2 linked regions of the Homo sapiens genome follow. The protein of the gene in region 2 interacts with the protein of the main gene of each other region in a pairwise test. Each region holds a gene or a part of one and is shown on either strand. Other genes may lie near its edges.

What was found.
Region 1: the proteins of ZNF227 (region 2) and RPS6KA6 interact in a two-hybrid assay, tested with the Homo sapiens proteins (one large-scale study listed by BioGRID and IntAct).

The regions. Positions count from the first base shown.
Region 1 is NC_000023.11:84,180,529-84,185,760, forward strand, and holds part of RPS6KA6 (ribosomal protein S6 kinase alpha-6), read right to left. Parts: intron 1-5,232. UniProt on the Homo sapiens protein: Constitutively active serine/threonine-protein kinase that exhibits growth-factor-independent kinase activity and that may participate in p53/TP53-dependent cell growth arrest signaling and play an inhibitory role during embryogenesis.
Region 2 is NC_000019.10:44,218,212-44,223,443, reverse strand, and holds part of ZNF227 (zinc finger protein 227), read right to left. Parts: intron 1-5,232. UniProt on the Homo sapiens protein: May be involved in transcriptional regulation.

The DNA of each region.
Region 1 (5,232 bases), on a different chromosome or scaffold from region 2:
AGTTACATAGTAAAACGTAATATCCAATAGAGTAATTCCTTATTTTATTTTTCTTTTTCAAAATTGTTTTAGAGCTTCTAGGTCTTGTACTTTTACATATACATTTTAGAACATGCTTGTCTGTTTACAAAACAAAACAAAACAAAAAAACAGACTTGCTGGGATTTTGTTGACATTTATTTAACTTAAATAGACAGGCATGGCTATTGAATCAGCACATCTGACTGCTGATCTAATATGGTTGCTAACAACGTATCTATATTCTCTCCTTATTTTCAATATTGTCCTTAGGGGGGAGATAGCAATGTATAGAGGAAAAAGCATGAATTTAAAATAATCTAGGTTCAAATTCCAGACGTATTTCCTACTAACTTGCATGTATCTTTCTATTCTGTTAAAAAGACATAACTGTCTTACCAAGATGTTTTGAAGAATGAATAAAACTGAGATAATCTATGATGCATCTAGTACTAGCTGGTACATAGTTCATGCTCAATAAACGCTATTATCTCTTTCTCCCTTAAGATTCGATACCTTTAAATGGAATGGATTCCAACGTTTTTTCAGGTTAAAAAATTTGTATTGGGTGTTTAAATTGCTATATTTCCTCTTAAAGTTTGTCTTCAATCACTTTACAGGAGAGGCAGAGGGATTTCTTAGTAATAATTACCCATGGGTTTTGAAATTTTTTGTTAGAGATGTAATGGGATATTTGTCATTCAAAACAGAGTCACTATCTCCTTACTCAGCTAGTAAAATGGGTGAACAAGTTATTTAACCTCTTAGTTATATGGCTGAACTATATCAAAACTAGCTACGGTACTAAATTTTGTTTTTAATGCTACTGGAAAAGCAAATTCCTCAAAACTAAAGAGCAAGAACATACAGGGCAGTTCAAACAACCCAATTTGGCTCCAGTCATATCTTAAAACAACAACAAAATAAAACACACAGAAAAATATCACAATTCACAGATAATTTACTGCAGAGCTAATTGCTAGCTTACAAATTAATATTCTTTTTTTCCTATTGAATAATGACAACTACGTGACTATTTCTTTTTTTACTTTGGCCTAGAGCTGTGGTTTTTAACCCTGGCTGTGCATCATAAGCATCTGGGGAATAGATGCCCAGGCCCCCTCTAGATTAGTTAAATGTGAATCTCTGAGTGGAACACTGGCATGGATAATTTTTTTACACTCCCAGGTAAATATAACACACAGCCAGAGTTGAGAAAAACCAGCTAAGAAAACTCAAGGCCAAATTTATAATTCAACTATATTTTAAACATGTCATAGACCCTTACAGCCTGCTTATTTGTGCTCTATTTTACCCTTCATCCCCTACCCTCCACCCTTTTCATATATCTCCTACTTTGTTTTCCCTTATCCTCAATATCAAAATAGTTATCAGATTATATTTCCCATATACCATCTCAAATGCTTGGTAAAATGAAGCAAATCACAAGTAACACACATGCACTCTACTCCACCTTCCCTCTTTCTCTGTCTCTCTCTCTCTCTCTCTCTCTCTCTCACACACACACACACACACACACACACACGTGCACACAAAACTACAGCAGGACCTGTTTCTAATGTAGAGATACAGATTAAAATCTAGCAGTGAAATCAGTTACAGAATGTCTCCAGGGCAATTTAGAAAACGTCTCTTATCTGCAAAAGCCAGATTTAGCTCAGCTCTCTAAATCTCTCTCCCATCTAACTCCTTTCCTACCTAAAAACAAACAAAAATAAAGAAAATACACAACAAAAAAAAATATTGGCAGCAACAGTAAATAATCCTTGGAAATAACATAAATGAATAAACATTACATAGCAAATTCTGACAAAGTACTGAAAGGCTTATACCTCAAGATTCCAAGTGCTTATCAAATCTTAAGAACCGCTGCTACATACAATGATAGCACCAAGAAAGAAATTACAGGAAGGGAAAAAAATCTTGCATTTCCTCATCAAAATTCTAGATGAGAGAGACTATGAGAGGGTAGGTACTAAAACAATATGGCCCAGAAAAGCAACTACACTATCAGTAGGCCTTATCATGGAACACAGAGGTAATGATTAGCTCTCTTGATGAACTAATCAAGGTAGGGAAATATAGAGGACCTGCCCTGAAGGAACTGACCTGAATATTTCCAGATCAGACTGGCTTAAAGAAAGATTGACTTGGAGGAACTGAGAAGGCACCTGTGGCAGGGAGGGGCCACTGCCCTCTGACTCCTCCCCGCTTGTCTATTCCAAATAAACCTGGTGAAAGCATAGAAAAAATACAGATGTCCCTGCTCTCCTTCCACATTCCAGAAATAAGTACTGGTCATTATTTTCAGAATAGGACTCTGTACTCACGGCTGCTGACTACTGAAGATGAACATTGGTGAAACAAGAATTACAGGCCTAAGGCCCATTTAAAAAGAATTAAAAATGTTTTAGCTAGTAATAAGTGTATTCACCTTTGGTAGTAAAGAATTTAAGCATTCTAAGCACGATCAGAAACCTTCAGAGTGGAATGCTATTATTCAATACAATATTAGAAAGGGGAGATTTCATTTTAGCTTTCTATCTCCCTATACTGCAAAGATCTATTTATTTTTATATTAGTCTGGTGGCTAATACAGAGACTTATATTGGCAGGTATGCATTAAATACCTGTTACATTGAATTAATTCCTACCAGGACGCTTCTAATCTCAATTGTTTGTTATTTCTTTTTACTCTCCAACATCTAATCAGTTACCAAATTGTAACTATTCTACCTCTGCCAGGTCTCTCCCATCAGTCATCTCTTTTCTACCCCTTCTGTACTAGTTCAAAAATCTCACTACTACTTCCACTAACACAATAGCCTCCTAGCTGGAATTCCCCACCTTCCATATCTCCCCCATTCCTCACTACCGTCAATTATTTTTCAAAGCACAAATCTAATAATGTCACTCATGTCCTCAAAAACCTTCAGTGGCTCCTATTTATGAGATAAAATTGAACCCTTAAACTGGCTTAAAAAGTCCCATTCAACCTGGGCCTAGCTTACCTTTAATACATTCCTTATCTCTCACTATATCCCCTCTCCCACATCACAGACTTACAACAGTATCAGATTCTTCCTTCTTTCAGAACATTTCCATGCCTTTTCTTATATTGTGCCCATCCACGTGAAATATGCTCCTTTCATCTGTCTGTGAAAATATTATCACTTTCTAATGCCCTGCTCAAATTCCACCTCCTTCACAAAGCCTTACCAGATCCATTCCTAAACCACCACCACCCCCACCACCACCACCACCACCCCATTGTTGATAATCTTGTGCCTTTTACAATAACAATTTCCATACATGCCTGTCTTACTACCTGAATGTAAACCTGTGGGGGTAGGGTGGGACTCTGTGGTATATTTTTAGGCATTTCACATTACAGCACTATGTACAGCACTGCCTTGTACTCAATAAATGCTTCATGAATTGAACCAATTCCTACCATGACAAGAGTTCAGAATTTTTTTAAAAAATTAAAAATTTCAATGAAACACCTCATCAGCCAGATATAATAAATGAAATTATCTGTCTCTTCTTATCCTTCCACTGTTTCTAAATATAACTTTGTATTTTATCTCTGGATCACCCTATCTGTGATTACAAACATTCACAGTGAGAGCACCACTATACTTAGATGAAATGATCAAATTTAGGAAGGGGTCTTAAGAAAAACTGCTTACGAAATGGAAGGCTGCGGCTAAGGCCATGGTTATCTGAATCCCAGGATTTTAACATAGATGACAATAGTTCAGACTTTAGGGGCATGGGAAGAGGCATGATGACTGTGGGAAAAGAGAAGGAACTATTGTGTACTAGAGACTAAGTGCAAAACATCTTGCTAAGTTTATTAAACCCAGCACTGAATTTTCTTTACATAACAACTCTTGAAGATGTTTTTTCTCCAACTTATAGACAAAGAAAGTGAGGTTCAGAGAGGTTAGGTAACGTGGATTGTGTCACATCATGAGTATGGCATGGAGCTCGGACAAGAACCCAGATTTACCTGCCTTCAAAGCTGTTCTTTCCTCTATTACTATAGGGTCTCATGAAAATTAATTAAAACTAGAAGTTTTTCCCAAATTGGTTTTATCAGTAAACTACATACTCTCAAAACTAATTTGTTTAGACAGGCATGGTTGTGAGCACCTGTAGTCCCAGCTACTCGGGAACCTGAGGCATGAGGATTGTTTGAGTCCAGGAGTTCGAGGCCAGCCTGGACAATGTACAATGACATAGAAAGACCCTGACTCAAAAAAAAAAAAAAAAAAAAAAAACTAACTTGCTTAAATAAAAACAGCATTGCTAAAGAAATAATATAAAAGTACTACACGTTTACTATGATATGAAATGTGAAAATTACATCATCAACTTGATAAAGAAGCACTTGGTTCCTCACCAAAAAACAAACAACTAAGCGAACAAACTGTAACATGCATGGCATTAAATCATGAAAAGTTCACATTAGTCAAACAGGTTGTTCTTTATGATCCTTGCCCAGGAATGACCAATACCCATCCCATCTCAAGTAAAACCTCTTTCTTGATCCTGACAGAATCCAGTCAAAAGCTTAAATTGTGACTGCGTGAGGGGTGATGCCCTTTGAAGTTCCTATTCCCAGTAGACCTCATTGAGACAGTCCCTGCAAGAGCTCTCACAATCAGTTTCTTGCTTACCCTATTTCCCCTCTTCTAAGAACTCTCTTCCCAGAAACCAAAAGATTCCAGGTTTCCCCTTTTCAGGCCCATTCTCTACCTCTCACTGGAACCAAGCTAGTTATTGGTTGAAACCTGACACATTTCACCACAGAACAATTTTACAAACAGTGGTTAGGCTCGGCATCATTATACCTCGCTATTATGTACTGATCTAAAAATATAAGTACCCTTAATAAGTTTTTCCTGTGGGAAAACATGTTAAGAGTCTCAAACAACCAATTTACACACTTCTGAATGATAATTCAAAGGTTAACAACTGTCCATGCAAGCAAGACAGGTAAAAGATACAAAAAGACTCCAAAATATATGGTAGTGTCTATAATCTTTAATCTTACCAGATTCAACACACACAGAAATGGACGGAAATTATTTCTTTTGACATTAAAGTTAACAGATTCTTACCTACATTTTCTTTAAGGATTCTAGCACATTTTAAAAATATATATTCTACAACAAAAACACTCTT
Region 2 (5,232 bases):
GCTCTGAAATTGTGGCAATAATCAATAGCTTACCAACCAAAAAGAGTCCAGGACCAGATGGATTCACAGCAGAATTCTACCAGAGGTACAAGGAGGAGCTGGTACCATTCCTTCTGAAACTATTCCAATCAATAGAAAAAGAGGGAATCCTCCCTAACTCATTTTATGAGGCTAGCATCATCCTGATACCAAAGCCAGGCAGAGACACAACCAAAAAAGAGAATTTTAGACCAATATCCTTGATGAACATTGATGTAAAAATCCTCAATAAAATACTGGCAAACCAAATCCAGCAGCACATCAAAAAGCTTATCCACCATGATCAAGTGGGCTTCATCCCTGGGATGCAAGGCTGGTTCAACATACGCAAATCAATAAATGTAATACAGCATATAAAGAAACCCAAAGACAAAAACCACATGATTATCTCAATAGATGCAGAAAAGGCCTTTGACAAAATTCAACAACCCTTCATGCTAAAAACTCTCAATAAATTAGGTATTGATGGGACATATCTCAAAATAATAAGAGCTATCTATGACAAACCCACAGCCAATATCATACTGAATGGGCAAAAACTGGAAGCATTCCCTTTGAAAACTGGCACAAGACAGGGGTGCCCTCTCTCACCACTCCTATTCAACATAGTGTTGGAAGTTCTGGCCAGGGCAATCAGGCAGGAGAAGGAAATAAAGGGTATTCAATTAGGAAAAGAGGAAGTCAAATTGTCCCTGTTTGCAGATGACATGATTGTATATCTAGAAAACCCCATTGTCTCAGCCCAAAATCTCCTTAAGCTGATAAGCAACTTCAGCAAAGTCTCAGGATACAAAGTCAATGTACAAAAATCACAAGCATTCTTATACACCAATAACAGACAAACAGAGAGCCAAATCATGAGTGAACTCCCATTCACAATTGCTTCAAAGAGAATAAAATACCTAGGAATCCAACTTACAAGGGATGTGAAGGACCTCTTCAAGGAGAACTACAAACCACTGCTCGATGAAATAAAAGAGGATACAAACAAATGGAAGAACATTCCATGCTCATGGGTAGGAAGAATCAATATCGTGAAAATGTCCATACTGCCCAAGGTAATTTATAGATTCAATGCCATCCCCATCAAGCTACCAATGACTTTCTTCACAGAATAGGAAAAAACTACTGTAAAGTTCATATGGAACCAAAAAAGAGCCCACATCGCCAAGTCAATCCTAGGCCAAAAGAACAAAGCTGGAGGCATCATGCTACCTGACTTCAAACTATACTACAAGGCTACAGTAACCAAAACAGCATGGTACTGGTACCAAAACAGAGATATAGATCAATGGAACAGAACAGAGCCCTCAGAAATAACGCCACAGATCTACAACTATCTGATCTTTGACAAACCTGAGAAAAACAAGCAATGGGGAAAGGATTCCCTATTTAATAAATGATGCTGGGAAAACTGGTTAGCCATATGTAGAAAGCTGAAACTGGATCCCTTCCTTACACTTTATACAAAAATTAATTCAAGATGGATTAAAGACTTAAACATTAGACCTAAAACCATAAAAACCCTAGAAGAAAACCTAGGCATTACCATTCAGGACATAGGCATGGGCAAGGACTTCATGTCTAAAACACTAAAAGCAATGGCAACAAAAGCCAAAATTGACAAATGGGATCTAATTAAACTAAAGAGCTTCTGCACAGCAAAAGAAACTACCATCAGAGTGGACAGGCAACCTACAAAATGGGAGAAAATTTTTGCAACCTACTCATCTGACAAAGGGCTAATATCCAGAATCTACAATGAACTCAAACAAATTTACAAGAAAAAAGCAAACAACCCCATCAAAAAGTGGGCGAAGGACATGAACAGACACTTCTCAAAAGAAAACATTTATGCAGCCAAAAACCACATGAAAAAATGCTCACCATCACTGGCCATCAGGGAAATGCAAATCAAAACCACAATGAGATACCATCTCACACCAGTTAGAATGGCAACCATTAAAAAGTCAGGAAACAACAGGTGCTGGAGAGGATGTGGAGAAACAGGAACACTTTTACACTGCTGGTGCGACTGTAAACTAGTTCAACCATTGTGGAAGTCAGTGTGGCGATTCCTCAGGGATCTAGAACTAGAAATACCATTTGACCCAGCCATCCCATTACTGGGTATATACCCAAAGGACTATAAATCATGCTGCTATGAAGACACATGCACATGTATGTTCATGTCCCTACAAAGGACATGAACTCATCATTTTTTATGGCTACTGGGTGTATACCCAACGGATTATAAATCATGCTGCTATAAAGACACATGCACACGTATGTTTATTGCAGCACTATTCACAATAGCAAAGACTTGGAACCAACCCAAATGTCCAACAATGATAGACTGGATTAAGAAAATGTGGCACATATACACCATGGAATACTATGCAGCCATAAAAAAGGATGAGTTCATGTCCTTTGTAGGGACATGGATGAAATTGGAAATCATCATTCTCAGTACTATCGCAAGGACGAAAAACCAAACACCACATGTTCTCACTCATAGGTGGGAACTGAACAATGAGAACACATGGACACAGGAAGGGGAACATCACACTCTGGGGACTGTTGTGGGGTTGGGGGAGGCGGGAGGGATAGCATTAGCAGATATACCTAATGCTAAATGACGAGTTAATGGGTGCAGCACACCAGCATGGCACATGTATACATATGTAACTAACCTGCACATTGTGCACATGTACCCTAAAACTTAGTTTAATAATAATAAAATTTTAAAAAAAAGAAATGCTGATATCCAGTGAGTAGGACTAGAATTCACCACTGTCATCTCCAGTCTGCAGTTTCAAAGGAAGCCACATGGGGCTGGGTGAGAGGGGAGGGCCACAGCTGGATCAATCATTGTATAGATGTGGATACTGTGATCGGTATCTTTATCTGGGCATTTTTTTTCTATTAACATTTTTTTAAAGTTAAAAAAAAAAAGGAAACAACAGGTGCTGGAGAGGATGTGGAGAAATAGCAACACTTTTACACTGTTGGTGGGACTGTAAACTAGTTCAACCATTGTGGAAGTCAGTGTGGCAATTCCTCAGGGATCTAGAACTAGAAATACCATTTGACCCAGCCATCCCATTACTGGGTATATACCCAAAGGATTATAAATCATGCTGCTATAAAGACACATGCACACATATGTTAATTCTGGCACTATTCACAATAGCAAAGACTTGGAACCAACCCAAATGTCCAACAACGATAGATGGATTAAGAAAATGTGGCACATATACACCATGGAATACTATGCAGCCATAAAAAAGGATGAGTTCATGTCCTTTGTAGGGACATGGATGAAACTGGAAACCATCATTCTCAGCAAACTATCGCAAGGACAAAAAACCAAACGCTGCATGTTCTCACTCATAGGTGGGAATTGAACAATGAGAACACATGGACACAGGAAGGGGAACATCACACTCCAGGGACTGTTGTGGGGTGGGGGGAGTGGGGAGGGATAGCATTAGGAGATATACCTAATGCTAAATGACGAGTTAATGGGTGCAGCACACCAACATGGCACATGTATACATATGTAACAAACCTGCACATTGTGCACATGTACCCTAAAACTTAAAGTATAATAATAATAAATAAATAAATAAATAAATAAATAAAAGAAAATCAACATCCAAAAAAAAAAGTTTTGAAAGCGTAATGGCAGATTTTCCTCTCCAAAGATTTTCCCAGTTCACTCTTCATGCAACAGTACAAGCATTCCTGAATCTCTAGACCCCGGCTAAATAGGACTCAGTTCCTTTTTCTAAAAAAGTCATTGACAATATAAGTAAAACCAATATATAAATAGAAAGCTATTTTATTAACATTTTCACACATTTAAATTATTAGTGAAGTTTTTTTCATAAATTTCTTTTCTTTATGACACTCCTATTCATTTCTTTTGCTCATATTCCAGTTGGAATTTTCTCTATATTACTAATCTTAACAGGAATTTAAGCTATTAGACCTTTACCTAATGTTTAAGTATATGCCACCGGTTTGCTGCTGTCTCTTACCATCATACCTGATAGCTTTTGCTGTAGGGAAATTTAAAACACTTACATAAAAACTGTGCTTGAGCATCTACGTTCATGGAATGACTAAGAGACAAAACTAGAGAAGAGACAGTAATTGAGATGGAAACTGGATGAGGGGCATTGTTGGGGTCTATCCTCCAAAAGGTAATATCAGGGCCAGGTGCACTGGTTCACGCCTATAATCCCAGCACTTTGGGAGGCCGAAGTGGGTGGATCATCTGAGGTCAGGAGTTGAAGACCAGCCTGGCCAACGTGGTGAAACCCCGTCTCTAATAAAAATACAAAATTAGCCAGGCGTGCTGGTACATGCCTGTAATCCCAGCTACTTGGGAGGCTGAGGCAGGAGAATCGCTTGAACCTGGGAGGCAGAGGTTGCAGTGAGCTAAGAACATGCCATTGCACTCCGGCCTGGGTGACAAGAATTAAACTCTGTCTCAAAAGAATAAAAAGGTAACATCAGGTACTTCTATCATATGTGCTCATCTCTGTGAATGGAAAACTCTTTTGTTCTGTCTGCCTTTACATGAAAATAGAATGCCAGATATTCCTAATAGTTGGAAGCTTCAGTGTCCAATGAGTCAGCTACCTGGGAAATTTGGGGCAGTTATAAAATGTTCCCATAACCTGTTTCTTCATATTTAAAATGCAAATAAATCATCTCCATCCTCACATCTGAAAAATGCAATGACAGATGGAAAGGGCTAGCAAGACATCTAAGTACTACTAGACCTTACGTACATGTAGTTACTTTGATGAAATAAATTCATACAAGAAATAAATGAGTGATAAAAACATAAACGGGAAAAATATATAGCTCTTCTTCTCTGAAAGCATCTAATAAAATTACACCATGTCATTCTTTAGATGTTCTGTTTACAAAACACCTGAGGGAACTGACATGAAACTGAGACATAAACCTCTTCAATGCAGAGTTCCTAAAACTTTAAGGACAAATAATATTGAATTCCACCAGAATTTCTTTTGAAGGAATTGTTTTTATATGTAGGGAAAAAAGTCACTGGATTTACTTTAAAGTAGTAAAATTCTTAAAATTTCTGAATTTCTGAAAGGCTAAATAAGAAATAGTTTTTGTTGTCTTTTAAGGGCACTGCAATTCAATGGCATATGA